3 separate regions of the Homo sapiens genome follow, and regions 1 and 2 are each linked to region 3. The links come from fine-mapping of genetic effects on gene expression. A gene starts in region 3. Each other region holds a variant in brackets. All regions are shown on one strand. Distances are between the middles of the regions. Region 1 overlaps CAPSL (calcyphosine like). Region 2 has its middle 26 kb from the start of IL7R. Region 3 holds the start of IL7R (interleukin 7 receptor).

Region 1 (4,249 bases), 63 kb before region 3:
TGTACGTCCCTTGGGGACCACTCAGGAGACAGCACTTCACTGCACCCATCCTAAGAACCTCATTAGGTGTTAGTGGATACTAACCTGTGAATCAAGGAGACCATACCCATTACTGGTAAGAATCATTAAGGATCAAGTGCTGAAAATCTCATTCAAGACAGAAGCAACAAAATCAATGTTTAGACCAAAGAGGAGAACATTAAATGTGAGGGTCAAGGGAATATGGAAAATTCTACATAAAATAATATGGTATATAATGTTGGTTCAAAAAAGAGAGTATAGAGAAATTGCACTTCTTTTATGGATGGAAGAGGGCTTCAGAAAGATCAAAACATCTTGGGAAATGGTGATATATTTAAGATTATTGTCTAGGCTGGAGAAACCAGATGTCCTCAGGACTAGATAAGTAAGTTATAAATATGCCAGGCACACAGTTGGCATAGAGAAAAATTGGAAATTCTGAGAGGTTTCCTGACAGAGAAGGCTGTAAATTTCCTTCTCAGTGAGGCTTCTGTCACTCTGCCCAGCCAGAGGCAGCGGCGAGGCCTGGACTTTGCTAACATGCTATGGCTTCCCCTCAGATGGCAGGGACAGCGCGCCATGACCGAGAGATGGCGATCCAGGCCAAGAAAAAGCTCACCACGGCCACCGACCCCATTGAAAGACTCCGACTGCAGTGCCTGGCCAGGGGCTCTGCTGGGATCAAAGGACTTGGCAGGTAGGACCCAGCTACAAGTGGCAGGGAATGGAGCGGGAAGGAATGACTCTGCCAGGTGAGGCTAATGTTGGCCACGTGGTCTTGGGGAAGTCATCTCCTCCTAGGGGCTCAGTTCCTTATTTGTAAAATGTAGAGTTTAGAAGAGTTGATCTATGAGGTCCCTTGTGACAGTTTTTGGATCTTAGTCCCAGATTCGGCAAGACTCATATCTGCTACAAGACAGTGCAGCTCTGGGAAAATATGAGGTAAAGGGAGAAGCAGCATGTGCCCTGGCATGGAGATGCCTACCAGGACAATGAGAGGGACTCTCTCTGCAGCTGTGATAATAAAGGCCAGGGTGGAAGAGGGAGGAAGGAACAGCCAGTTAGCCCTAATTGCAGAATTTGGAATTTTGCTCTCGGGCAATCATTTCTCCATCACTTCCAGGGACACTGGTATTGCTTGTCAGATAACTGATAGCTCACTGCCAATGGGGTTCTCTCAGCTGGGTAGCTCCTGTTCTCCCACCCTCTGTCCTCTGAGTGTGAATAGTTTTAAGGACTGAGAAACCAAAAGGGAAAGGAGATTGTGAGCCTCCTGAGGGCAGGTCCTGTGCATTATAAGAAACTCCATCAAGAGCCTGCCATGGGCCAGGCATTGGACACATCTCAGGGACCCGTGGGTGAACAAGGCTTCTTAAGCCCCCATGGAGGACTAAGACTATGGACAATATGAGTGATCTAAATGGCATCTCAGTGGTGTGAGAAGTTGTTTATTAGAGAAGTACAGGGTGCCAATGGGAGGGAAATCTAGCCTTGGACCCAGAAGATGCGGAAGGCTTCACTTCCAGCAAGGTACTGAGTGCCTGGGAGAAAACTCTGAACAGTCCCAAGTCTCAGACTAAGCCCAGCTCTGTCAGAAGGCCAGGCAGTGGGGATATGGACCCTGGTGGCCAGGCTGCCCCAGTCCAATGGGAAGACCAGCACCCATGCCCTCAATATTGTGTCACTTCCACCTCTATCCCATTCATCATGGGTCCACATCATTGTCCTTAGTGCAAACCCTTGAGGAATCCTCTCTTCCACTCTCTGGTTCACTCAGTGGAATCCCTCCTGCTACCTGTGCCATCTTCACCCCATACCCACTGCACACTGCGTCTCTACCAGCCTTTCCACTGGGAACCAGTCTACAGTCAATGGACACCGTTCCATCCTAAGCCTTTTGCAGAATGTGCCATCTGCCTCACTTACTGGCCTTGGCCTTCTCTAAGTAACTCCTAACTCAAGTGGAAGCTGCCCCTCTCCTCCACTCCTACCTTAGGGTCAGTTGAAGACTGAACACTCTCCTTCAGTCTAACTCCAAATCCCAGGTCATACACACCCCTTTGTTCATTTATTTCTTTCCCATAAATCCTGTCTTAGAAGGGCATCTCTTCAGGTTAGGCTCTGCCATCATCCCCCCTGCACAACATTTAGCATTCTGTGAAGCATTGACTCCCGGCACCATCTTTCCACCCTGAGTCTTTATCCTGACCAAGATCAAGATGACTTTGTTATTTATAACCTTGGCACCTTCATTTTTTGACATGAAATTCTTGTG[G/A]TTTTCAACAGTATACGTTCTTTCTTAGTCATTTCCAATTGCCTTGTAAATGTAGATACTTCTCTAGTATCTAAATTCTCAAGATTCTTTTGCTAGTATCCTTAATTTATCAGACAACTTGGCTACTCCTGAGTTAGCACATCTGTACCTTGGCCCCTTGCCACGTTCTTGGAATGCTATCCGTTCCTGAGATCCAAACTAATTTCACAATTTTTATATATATATATATATATATTTTTTTTTTTAATCAGGAAAGATACTAGCTAACCAGTGAATATCTCTATATAGTTGACTTAGTATCCAATCCAAACAAAACAAAAGTCATTTTTTTTGTTTTTTGTTTTCCAAATAGAGCTTCTTCTGCAGCCCCTACGGTTTTAACAGTATTACTACTCTTCCAGGTCTTTGGGTTGAAAACTTTAGAATTATCTTCATTAGCCCACCATATTGACTCCTTTATTTCTATAATATCTTGAAATCTTTATTTTTCTTATTTTCATCCCAATTGCTCAAGTGTAGACACTCAACATTTTTTTCACTGGACTCTTATGATAGTATTCTTGCTGGTTCCTTTGCTCCTAAGTTTTCAGTCCTCCAATTCATTCAACCCATTATTGCTAGAGTTCTGTTAGCTCTCTTATGGGTAAAGTTCTCATTATTTTGATAATGTCACTTCAAGTCAACCATTTAATGACTTTAAAAATGACTTGCTAATAAAGTTCAAATTTTTAGCATTTAAGGACATTTAAAAGTCTTTAGATTCTGATTACTCCAACTTTCCATCTTTTAAAAAAATTATTCTTTAAGTGCTGGGATACATGGGCAGAACGTGCAGGTTTGTTACATAGGTATACATGTGCCATGGTGGTTTGCTGCACCCATCATCCTGTCATCTACATTAGGTATTTCTCCTAATGTTATCCCTCCCCTAGCCCTCCACCCCCTGAAGTTCATGTTCCACTGTGTGATGTTCCCCTCCTTGTGTCCACGTAATCTCATTGTTGAACTCCCACTTACGAGTGAGATCATGCGATGTTTAGTTTTCTGTTCCTGTGTTACTTTGCTAAGAATTATGGTTTCCAGCTTCACCCATATCCCTGCAAAGGACATGAACTCATCCTTTTTTTATGGCAGCCTGATATTCCATGGTGTATGTGTGCCACATTTTCTTTATCCAGTCTATCATTGATGGACATTTGAGTTGGTTCCAAGTTTTTGTTGTTGTGAATAGAGCTGCAATAAACATATGTGTGCAAGTGTCTTTACAGTAGAAAGATCTATAATCCTTTAGGTATATATCCGGTAATGGGATTGTGGGGTCAAATGGTATTTGTGGTTCTCCATCCTTGAGGAAATGCCACTCTGTCTTTCACAATGGTTGAACTAATTCACACTTCTACCAACAGGGTAAAAGCATTCCTATTTCTCCACATCCTCTCCAGCATCTGCTGTTTCCTGACTTTTTAATGATCACCATTCTAACTGACATGATTTGCATTTCTCTAATGACGATAAGCTTTTTTTTAAAATTTTATTATTATTATACTTTAAGTTTTAGGATACACGTGCACAACGCGCAGGTTTGTTACATATGTATACATGTGCCATGTTGGTGTGCTGCACCCATTAACTGGTCATTTAGCATTAGGTATATCTTCTAATGCTATCACTTCCCCCTCCCTTCACCCCACAACAGGCACCGGTGTGTGATGTTCCCCTTCCTGTGTCCATGTGTTCTCATTGTTCAATTCCCACCTATGAGTGCGAACATGCGGTGTTTGGTTTTTTGTCCTTGCAATAGTTTGCTGAGAATGATGGTTTCCAGCTTCATCCATGTCCCTACAAAGGACATGAACTCATCATTTTTTATGGCTGCATAGTATTCCATGGTGTATATGTGCCACATTTTCTTAATCCAGTCTATCATTGTTGGACATTTGGGTTGGTTCCAAG
Region 2 (4,249 bases), 26 kb after region 3:
GAGGATAGGATTTTGTAGTAGCATTTTCTGTCATTTTGCTCTTGTTTGATTGAAGAGACAATTCTATAATGATTTAAATTCATGTTCCCTCTTGATAAATGTTTCAGAGAAACCTTATATGATTGAAAATAGGTCAGCCAGTGTTGGTAAGTGATTTGCAATTGTTCAACACATTCCCATCGAAGTAGGTCAGATTAGTGTCCTGCTAAGCACGAGTATATTTGTTTAAAAAGGTGTTCAGTTCTAAAAATAAAAATCTATGTAACATTTGAATGAAAACAAGGAGAAAAAATTTAGAACTACATAGTCCTCCCTTTATACTGATTAAATATAAGTTACAGTCCATTCAAATGGAATCAGGTACAATGAGAAGACCAGACAGCTGGGCTTCAAGCCAGGATAGAAACAGATGAGATGATTACAATAACAGTAGAAATTGCCTTTAAAGCAAAATATCATTATTGTGGCATCAAATAATTCAGAATTTTAGTAAATCAGGTAACTTAGAGGGAAGTTTAATTAGGTACTAGCAATAAAGAAAACGATTCCAAGGTTAAAACACAGTTAAACCAACCAATAAACAAAAAACATGATAGAGCATGATTAAGAGATCAACTTATTTCACAAGTATTTGCAATTGCTTTAGAACCAACAACATTGATATGTGAATTTAATATTGTTATTTACTGCATTTCACTAACCTATGATGATATTAATTGTAAGGTTCATTTCAATCCCAAAGATGTTAACTCTGAAAAGAATAATCTTCTGAAAAAATGTTCTTTAATCAGAAAGCACATTTGTCATCCTAGTTCTTATTATCATATATGTTTGATGTTTGAAGATAATAGAATTGTACAATAGAATTGTACTTCTTGGAGACTATTATATTGCTTATGCCATTGCTGTGAAGTTATGAGAGAGGGACACACATGTTGCAAAGCATATGTCTCGTGTGTGACAAATTTGATGTTTTATCACAGGGTGTCCCGCCCAATCTGTGGCTCACACTATGTCCCCAGTACTGTTTGGCTGCATTTCCAGAAGCCAGCAACAGGACTAGAATCCATGTTTCCAATGGACCCTTTAATTCTTGAGAAGCTGTGGAGGAGATAGAGTGACACTTTATCTCTTTGGTCTCTTCTTAGCTTGTAGCGGCTAATGCCTTATGACGGAAGAGTGAGCCTGGACACTTACTGCCTAGTTCCAGGTCAGTATTTGGCTGGAAAGAGAAGTTACTATGGATCAGAGGCTGTGGTTCTCCTAATTGCTCTTAGTAATGGCCATCACCACTTCATCCATGCAGGCTTGGGTACTTCCTGTCTACTTGGTGGATAACATTTGATTCCTAAAGATGGAGTGAGAATGACATAAAGTTATTTGCCAAGGAAGAGCAAATGTTTACACTTACTTGACACCTGAAACCCTTAGAATGCTAACTGAAGCAGACTTTCCTTAGCTAACTGTAGGTAAATATTATACTACCCACCAACACTATTGTATGAAAGATTACTGCAGGTAACAAGAAAAATGAGACAAGGAAGACTGTCTTTGTGCTAATCCATGGTTAGAACCTTCCTTTAGGAAGGAATCTTCTTAGAAGAGAAGGAAGCACATAGTAGATGTTTTGGATATCTAGATATCTTACTACTTTTCAATTTCTCATAAAAATAAACATTTTGGGTGACAGCACCTGATGTATCAGATTATGTATTTGTTTAGATCAAACAGCTTTGTCATTGAAGTGAACTAAGATCTGTTCCAGAGCTTCCAAAGAGAAAGAATTGGAAACCTATGCTGTTTTTCATTTCTGAAATGGTTAAAGCATTGCCCTGGACTATAAAACTGGGACTGTGGCTTGGAAACAATCTTTGATATTATCTGAAAATCTTCAAAACAAAATGCAAGTATGGCCGTATTTTTTTTTCTAGCTGATCTGCCATATGTGTATTTTGGCTGTCTGTCTGATTGTGCTCAGATGTGGGTAGTGGTAGGGAGGAAAAAATAATGTTTCTTAACTCTGAGGATAAAAAGACTTCAAACTGTGTGCCTCTCACATCCTTTGGTAATCTGCCCCACATTCTGCACCGTGATGTGGGATATAGATACTGCTAATTTGGTGTTTATTTCTTCGGAGTGGGGGTTGGGGAGTAAAATGGGGAGAACAAGCATTAAAGAGGAAGGTGTTGCGGATAGGTGGCAGTTTCTGAGCTCA[A/G]TGAAGAGGAGTCAGGTGCTAACTCTCAAAGCAGAACTCAAGGAGCTTTAATCACTATTATTACTTAAGTAATAATAGACACTATAAGGTGCCTGCTGTTAGAAGTAACTGATATGGGGTGATCCCAGATCATCACCTTCCTGGTCATTATTAAAATATCAATCTTCACTGTCATTTCTTTTTTCTACTCAGAGCAATGAAACTGAGAGATACTATGTAGGCAGCAATGATCTAAGCAGGAATTCTCAAACCTTCATCTCAAAGTCATTTGAAGTAAGTTAAGAAGGAGGACATGTTTTGAGGACATTGAAGTCTCATGTTTTACCTTAAAATGTGTGTGTGTGTATATATATATATATATATATATATATATATATATATATATAGTGCTTGATGGCATATATAGGTTTCTTAAAAATAAAAAGAATAAGATGGCTGGGCGCAGTGGCTCACTCCTATAATCCCAGCACTTTGGGAGGCCAAGGCGGGTGGATCACCTGAGGTCAGGAGTTCGAGACCAGCCTGACCAATATGGTGAAACCCCATCTCTACTAAAAATACAAAAATTAGCCCAGCAAGGTGGCATGTGCCTGTAGTCCCAGCTACTTGGGAGGCTAAGACAGGAGAATTGCTTGAACCCAGGAGGCGGAGGTTAGAGTGAGCTGAGATCTCGCCACTGCACTCCAACCTGGGTGACAGAGCAAGATTCCGTCTCAAAACAAACAAACAAACAAAAAAAAACGCCAAGGTTTTCCAATTTCTCTCTCTCTCTCTCTTTTTTTTTTTTTTTTGAGTTGGAGTCTCACTCTGTTGCCCAGGCCCGGGTACAGTGGTACGATCTCGGCTCACTATATCCTCTGCCTCCCAGGCTCAAGAGGTTCTCTTGTCTCAGCCTCCTGAGTAGCTGGGATTACAGGTGTGAGCCACCACACCTAGCTAATTTAGTAGAGACAGGGTTTCACCATGTTGGCCAGGCTGGTCTTGAACTCCCGACCTCAAGTGATCGGTCCACCCTGGCCTTCCAAAGTGCTGGGATTACAGACATGAGTCACTGCACTAGGCCCTCAATTTCTTTATGTATAAAGATACACATACACCCCTAATTTTACATGAATGTGATATTAAACATGCTATTCAAATGCAGTTTTCCTCTCATTTTTTTTGTTTGTTTGCCCTTTCATGCACAATAATCTTTTATCCTCTAAATTCAGGCTAATAACTTAGAGCATATCTTACATATTTTTCTATATGCTGACAGAATCATATATAGCATATACACATCTATGAGTATAGACACTACACACATTCATATATGGAAAGACAAACAAATGCATTTAATTTTTTGTCTTTTATTTTGCAAAAAGAGGATTATATAATATATACTTGCCTGAGTCTAGCTTTGCACACACAACAACAATACATTCTGGAAATCTCTAAACGAACCAGTTATCTCTGAAATCTTATTCTCTTTTTAAATGATAGCACAGTGTCCCATGTTATAGTTATATTACAATTAACTCAATTGCTTCCTTTAAGTAGGGCTTTGTTTTCTACTTATTGGGAAAAAAGCATTGATAAATATATATGACCTATATATTTATTAATATATTTATATCTATCTATCTATCTATTGTTTTCCTATGGATTAGATCCTCAGTAATGAGATTTTTGGGTTGAAGACTTAAAATATTTTTGATTTTAATGGGATTTTCTAAGCTTGCTTCCAAAAAGCCTGTATTAATTCACATTTCTACCAGCATGTATTAGAGTAAGTATAATGTTTAAAGTACTTGTTATTCAAAGTATCGTTCATGGACCAGAAGCAACAGCCTCAGCTGGGAGTTTGTTAGAGATGCAGGCTTGCAGCCCCATTCCAGACCTACTGAATCAGAATCTGCATTTTAATAAGATCTTTGGGTGATCCATATGCACTTTACCATTTAAAAATTACTGTTTTTAAATCACTTGCAATCTGTTAAGTTGGGAATATATTTATTAACTGTCTTCTCTGGAAGGATAATTAAGAAATTACTA
Region 3 (4,219 bases):
TAAAAATTTAAATTGTGTGGAATATGTATCATAGGCAAGCCAGTGTCATCTAGAAGTCTTCTTCCTACTGAATGGAGTTAGTTGATTAATAGTGTAAATGATTTGGATTTTTAAAAAGTATCCCTTTCTTCTCTTGATCATCCTTGTGATGATCAGAAAATTGACAACTTTCAACAAGCAGCAACTGAATGTGAATTCCTATACCCCAAACTGGGAAGTATTTTGACGTAATCATGTGAATAGGGTAATTATACATCTTCTAAAAAATCTGAAACTTAAAAAGTTGGAGTGAAAACCCAGCTTTCAACTAGCATTCTTATATATTTTAAAAATAGTATGATCACCAGGGTGAACTAGTGAGTATAGATGACATGAAAGAGAGTAAGATTTATGTTTCCTGCCTCCCATCAGTCTTTGTGGAAATCCAAGGCAAAGTTTAGCATAGAATAATAATCATCCCCCATAAAGTGAGTCATATACTGTAAAAAATGTCAAACTCTCTGACAATTCCCTTAATGAGAAAATTCTAGGGATTTCCATCCTTCGTAATTACATGACTCAAAATGCATAAGCTGAGTCATTAGGCTGATGTGTTTGATATTGTCTATAGCCAAATAGTTTTTAACTCTTAAAGAGAAAGGGCTTAATTTGCAGGAGCAAGTTGATGGTCTAAATTCCCACATGCCTCCTGCTGCTGTTAGAAGCTTCTGCCTAGTTTTGTTATAATTACAATGTGTTTATGTATGGGCAGGGTTGGCTTCTCGGTACTAAGTTTTTTAGATCCCAAAAAGAATTATTACATATGGCCAATTTGTTGGTGTGGAGGCAATTCAGTGTATTTCAATGAGTAAACTCATTTAGATCTTTCTCTAGTCAGTTATTTACTTAAAATCTCACATAAATCTCTCAAAACTAAAGTATTTTGAAAACACTTTCAAAAGTTATTGGATGTCTACTATATTCTAGCCACTGATTTAGGTGCTGAGGATATAGCACTGGTCACTGAAGACAAAGCTATTGCTTCTGTACATTACCTTATCCTGAAAGTTATGCTTTCAGGATTTCTTAAAAAGTCAAACAAAATGAATCCAGTTTGATCTCCTGACAAGGTAAAATTACTTTGGACATTTTCCTACAAGTACAGTCATAGCATCTACATGAGCATTCTTTTTGTAAGAGCAGAGTAATCATTCAACATTTAAGATCTACACTTGGGAGTGAAATGCATTCCTTCTTGAGAATACTGAGGTCTTATAAACCACCCATAGTATTGATCCCCTGCCCCCTGTCATGGTGGTTAAACATTAAAAAAAATGACTGAATATGTGGGAAATTCTCAAACTGCATTCAAACCCAGTGCCTGACTCAGGTCTGTTAGGGAACTGAATAACCTGAAACCATGCTACAGATAATCCAAAATCCATAAGAAAACTTAGAAATGACTCACCATTTTGAGCATAGCCACTTTCTCCAGAAACGACTTGAAGTAAAGAAAAAACCATGCCAAAAGTTGTACCTAGAATTGTCATTCTGAGAGAGATAGAGAGAGAGAGTAGATGTGTGAGCCAGTGTGTATGAAATGAATGAGAGTAAGAGGAAGGGAGGGAGGGAGGAAGACAGAGAAGCTTAGATCTAGGGCTTTATACTTATCTAACCACAGACAAGGGAAGTATAAACACAGCAAAAAAGAAGGCAAGTTCCAGAAACAGGAAGTCTGAGTAAAAGTATTGCTGCTGTAAGCAGAGGTCAAGGACATGAAGAGACAGAGCCTCTGAAATTATTGTTCCTCCTGGATATTCCCTGCAGCCCCCACACTTACTGTGCTTACATCAGAGTAAGGCAGTAGATTCACACCTAGGCTCAAGCTATCTTAGGCTAGAGGCTACTTTATTTTTTTAATTTTTATTTTTTTGAGACAGAGTCTTGCTTTGTTGCCCAGGCTGGAGTACAATAGCATGATCTCGGCTCACTGCAATTTCCACCTCCCAGGTTCAAGCAATTCTCCTGCCTCAGCCTCCTGAGTAGCTAGGACTACAGGCAAATGCCACTATGCCAGCCTAATTTTTGTGTTTTCAGTGGAGACGGGGTTTCGCCATGTTGGCCAGGCTTGTCTCGAACTCCTGACCTCAAGTGATCTGCCTGCCTCAGCCTCCCAAAGTGCTAGGACTACAGGCATGAGCCACCGCTCCTGACTAAGGGCCCACTTTAAAAGAATCTGAAGACAAAAATTCAAACTTACAAAGTGAATCAATTGGTTGTTTGGAGTGAGTTTTGATTTAAAGAAACAGTCTGCACTATGTGAAGTACTTTATTGTGGGTTTATTTTAAATAGCTTACCTCCAACTTCCAAGTTTCACAAGAATAGCAGTTTTTCTCTTTTGTTCTCTGTGTATCCCTGGTATTTACTCATATCTTACACACCACAGTAGGCATTCAAGAATTATTTGTTTAGGGCAGGGGCTGGCAAACTATGACCTAGGGAACAATTTTTTAAAAAATTATTCATTTATTTTTTCTTTTTCAAAAGATCTTTTTTTTTCCCAAGTAAGCCTTGGGACCAAATTTAATCTACCACCTGTTTTTGCAAATAACGTTTCATTGGAATACAGCCTCACCCATTTGTGTATCATCTACAGCTGCTTTTATGCAACAATGGCAGAGCTAAGTAGATGAGATAGAGATTGTATTGTACAAAAGGTGTAAAATCTTTACTATCTGACCCTTTGTAGAAAAAGTCTGCTGACCTCTTGTTTAAAGGATAAAGTAGGTACTTTCTTAGTGTATTTAAAACAGGATTCTATTTGTGAAAATTTGATTGCCACACAACTTTTCAGGTACACATAGTACATATGAACTAAATTAGTGCCTAGGTATATGGGGCAGAAATCTGAGACCATGGCATAGAAAATTCAGACTCCCCCAAACCTGAATGCCAGTCAAAAGCCTTCCTAATATGGCCTCATGGTTAAAGTGGTGATATTTGTAAAGCCTGACTGCTTCTTGGTAACTGTTAGATTTTTTTTTCTTTTTCTTGAAAAAAATAATCTAACCTGGATTCAGGCCATAAAACTCTATGCTTGATTCACAGTGGCTCTCTTTTGGAAAAATGCCACAAGACTGCAGTTATAAGGTGAGGAGTGCAGAGAAACTAAGTGATCAGTGAGTTATGAACTTCTGTTGGATTCACTGTCATTAGGTAGAATTGCTCCCATGGGCCTGTGAAATGGCTAAAATTAGCAGAGACAAGCAACAACCCCCCAGGTGTAAAGCAAATCGAAGAGACTTTAAAAGACTCATGATTTAGCTTGTCCCATCATTACAATTATTTGACAATAACGAAGTAACAAAAAAAGGAGGTGGGACATTTGTACCAGTCTCTGGATCCTCCTTTTCAGTTTTAAGACAGACTCCGTCTGCACCAGTTATAATGCCACACTTTGGAGTATAGGCTCAAGGAATACTTCGGAGCAAGAATCCAACTGAAGGGGACATATTCCATCTTCTCCATTTGTCAGGGCCTTCTCTGGGCATTTCAAAACCCTTCCAAGCCAAATAAAGAGTGACAATTTTGTGCATCGATAATAATTTATGCCCTCATTTCTAATCTTGTTTTGAAAGCTTGGTTAGAAAATTGTAAGCCTGATTCACAAAAATTGGTATGTTTTGTACACTGAGCTAAATACCCTTTCAAGAAAGCTATAATTACAGATTCCCATGAATTAAGCTAATGTTCAAGGAGAAATCCCAAATTATATCTATCTACCAATGCAAATCTCCTAAACTGCTAACAGATTGTCACTTCATGGGTGAGTAACTGGGTTATGTCTCTTTAAATTCTCTTGTTTATCATTTAAGTGGACTATCATTTTGATTGTATCTCTTTCCTTTAGTTGTGAAGATGTAAAAGAACAAAGCCAAGACACAATATTTTGGTACAGCATGTGCTGGTTTGTTCTGGGGATTTCCACAGGGGTGCTTACTCTTGGGTGGGGCAGGAGATGCTGAAAAGACCTCAGAGAGAAGCCTAAAGTGTGGGGAGCTCAAAGAAAAATGACATGCGTCACCAGTCCTTCTAGAGATTGTGGGGGAACAACAGTGCCTTCTCTCTTTCCTCACTCAGGTCTTGTTAGTCCTTTGGAGACTTAGAAAAGCTGAGGAAGAACCACCTAGTTCACCCTATCCCCCAGGTAACAAACATTTACTATATTACTTTGTCATT

Evidence for each region. PIP is the estimated chance that this variant, and not a neighbour inherited with it, causes the effect.
Region 1: its variant is the best candidate, but not a certain one, in a credible set for the expression of IL7R in fibroblasts (GTEx, PIP 0.80).
Region 2: its variant is the best candidate, but not a certain one, in a credible set for the expression of IL7R in whole blood (INTERVAL, PIP 0.60).

What each region holds. Positions count from the first base shown.
Region 1 is chr5:35,917,453-35,921,701 of GRCh38, reverse strand. It overlaps CAPSL (calcyphosine like), which reads left to right. Exons shown (of 5, transcript NM_001042625.2): 2 at 582-718. The coding sequence starts at 582. Among named protein-coding and RNA genes, the nearest start is that of CAPSL, 19 kb to the left of the region's middle. The variant G/A (reference allele first, on the strand shown) is at 2,297.
Region 2 is chr5:35,828,607-35,832,855 of GRCh38, reverse strand. No RefSeq gene overlaps it. Among named protein-coding and RNA genes, the nearest start is that of IL7R, 26 kb to the left of the region's middle. The variant A/G (reference allele first, on the strand shown) is at 2,216.
Region 3 is chr5:35,854,288-35,858,506 of GRCh38, reverse strand. It overlaps IL7R (interleukin 7 receptor), which reads right to left and starts at 1,616. Exons shown (of 8, transcript NM_002185.5): 1 at 1,448-1,616. The coding sequence starts at 1,529.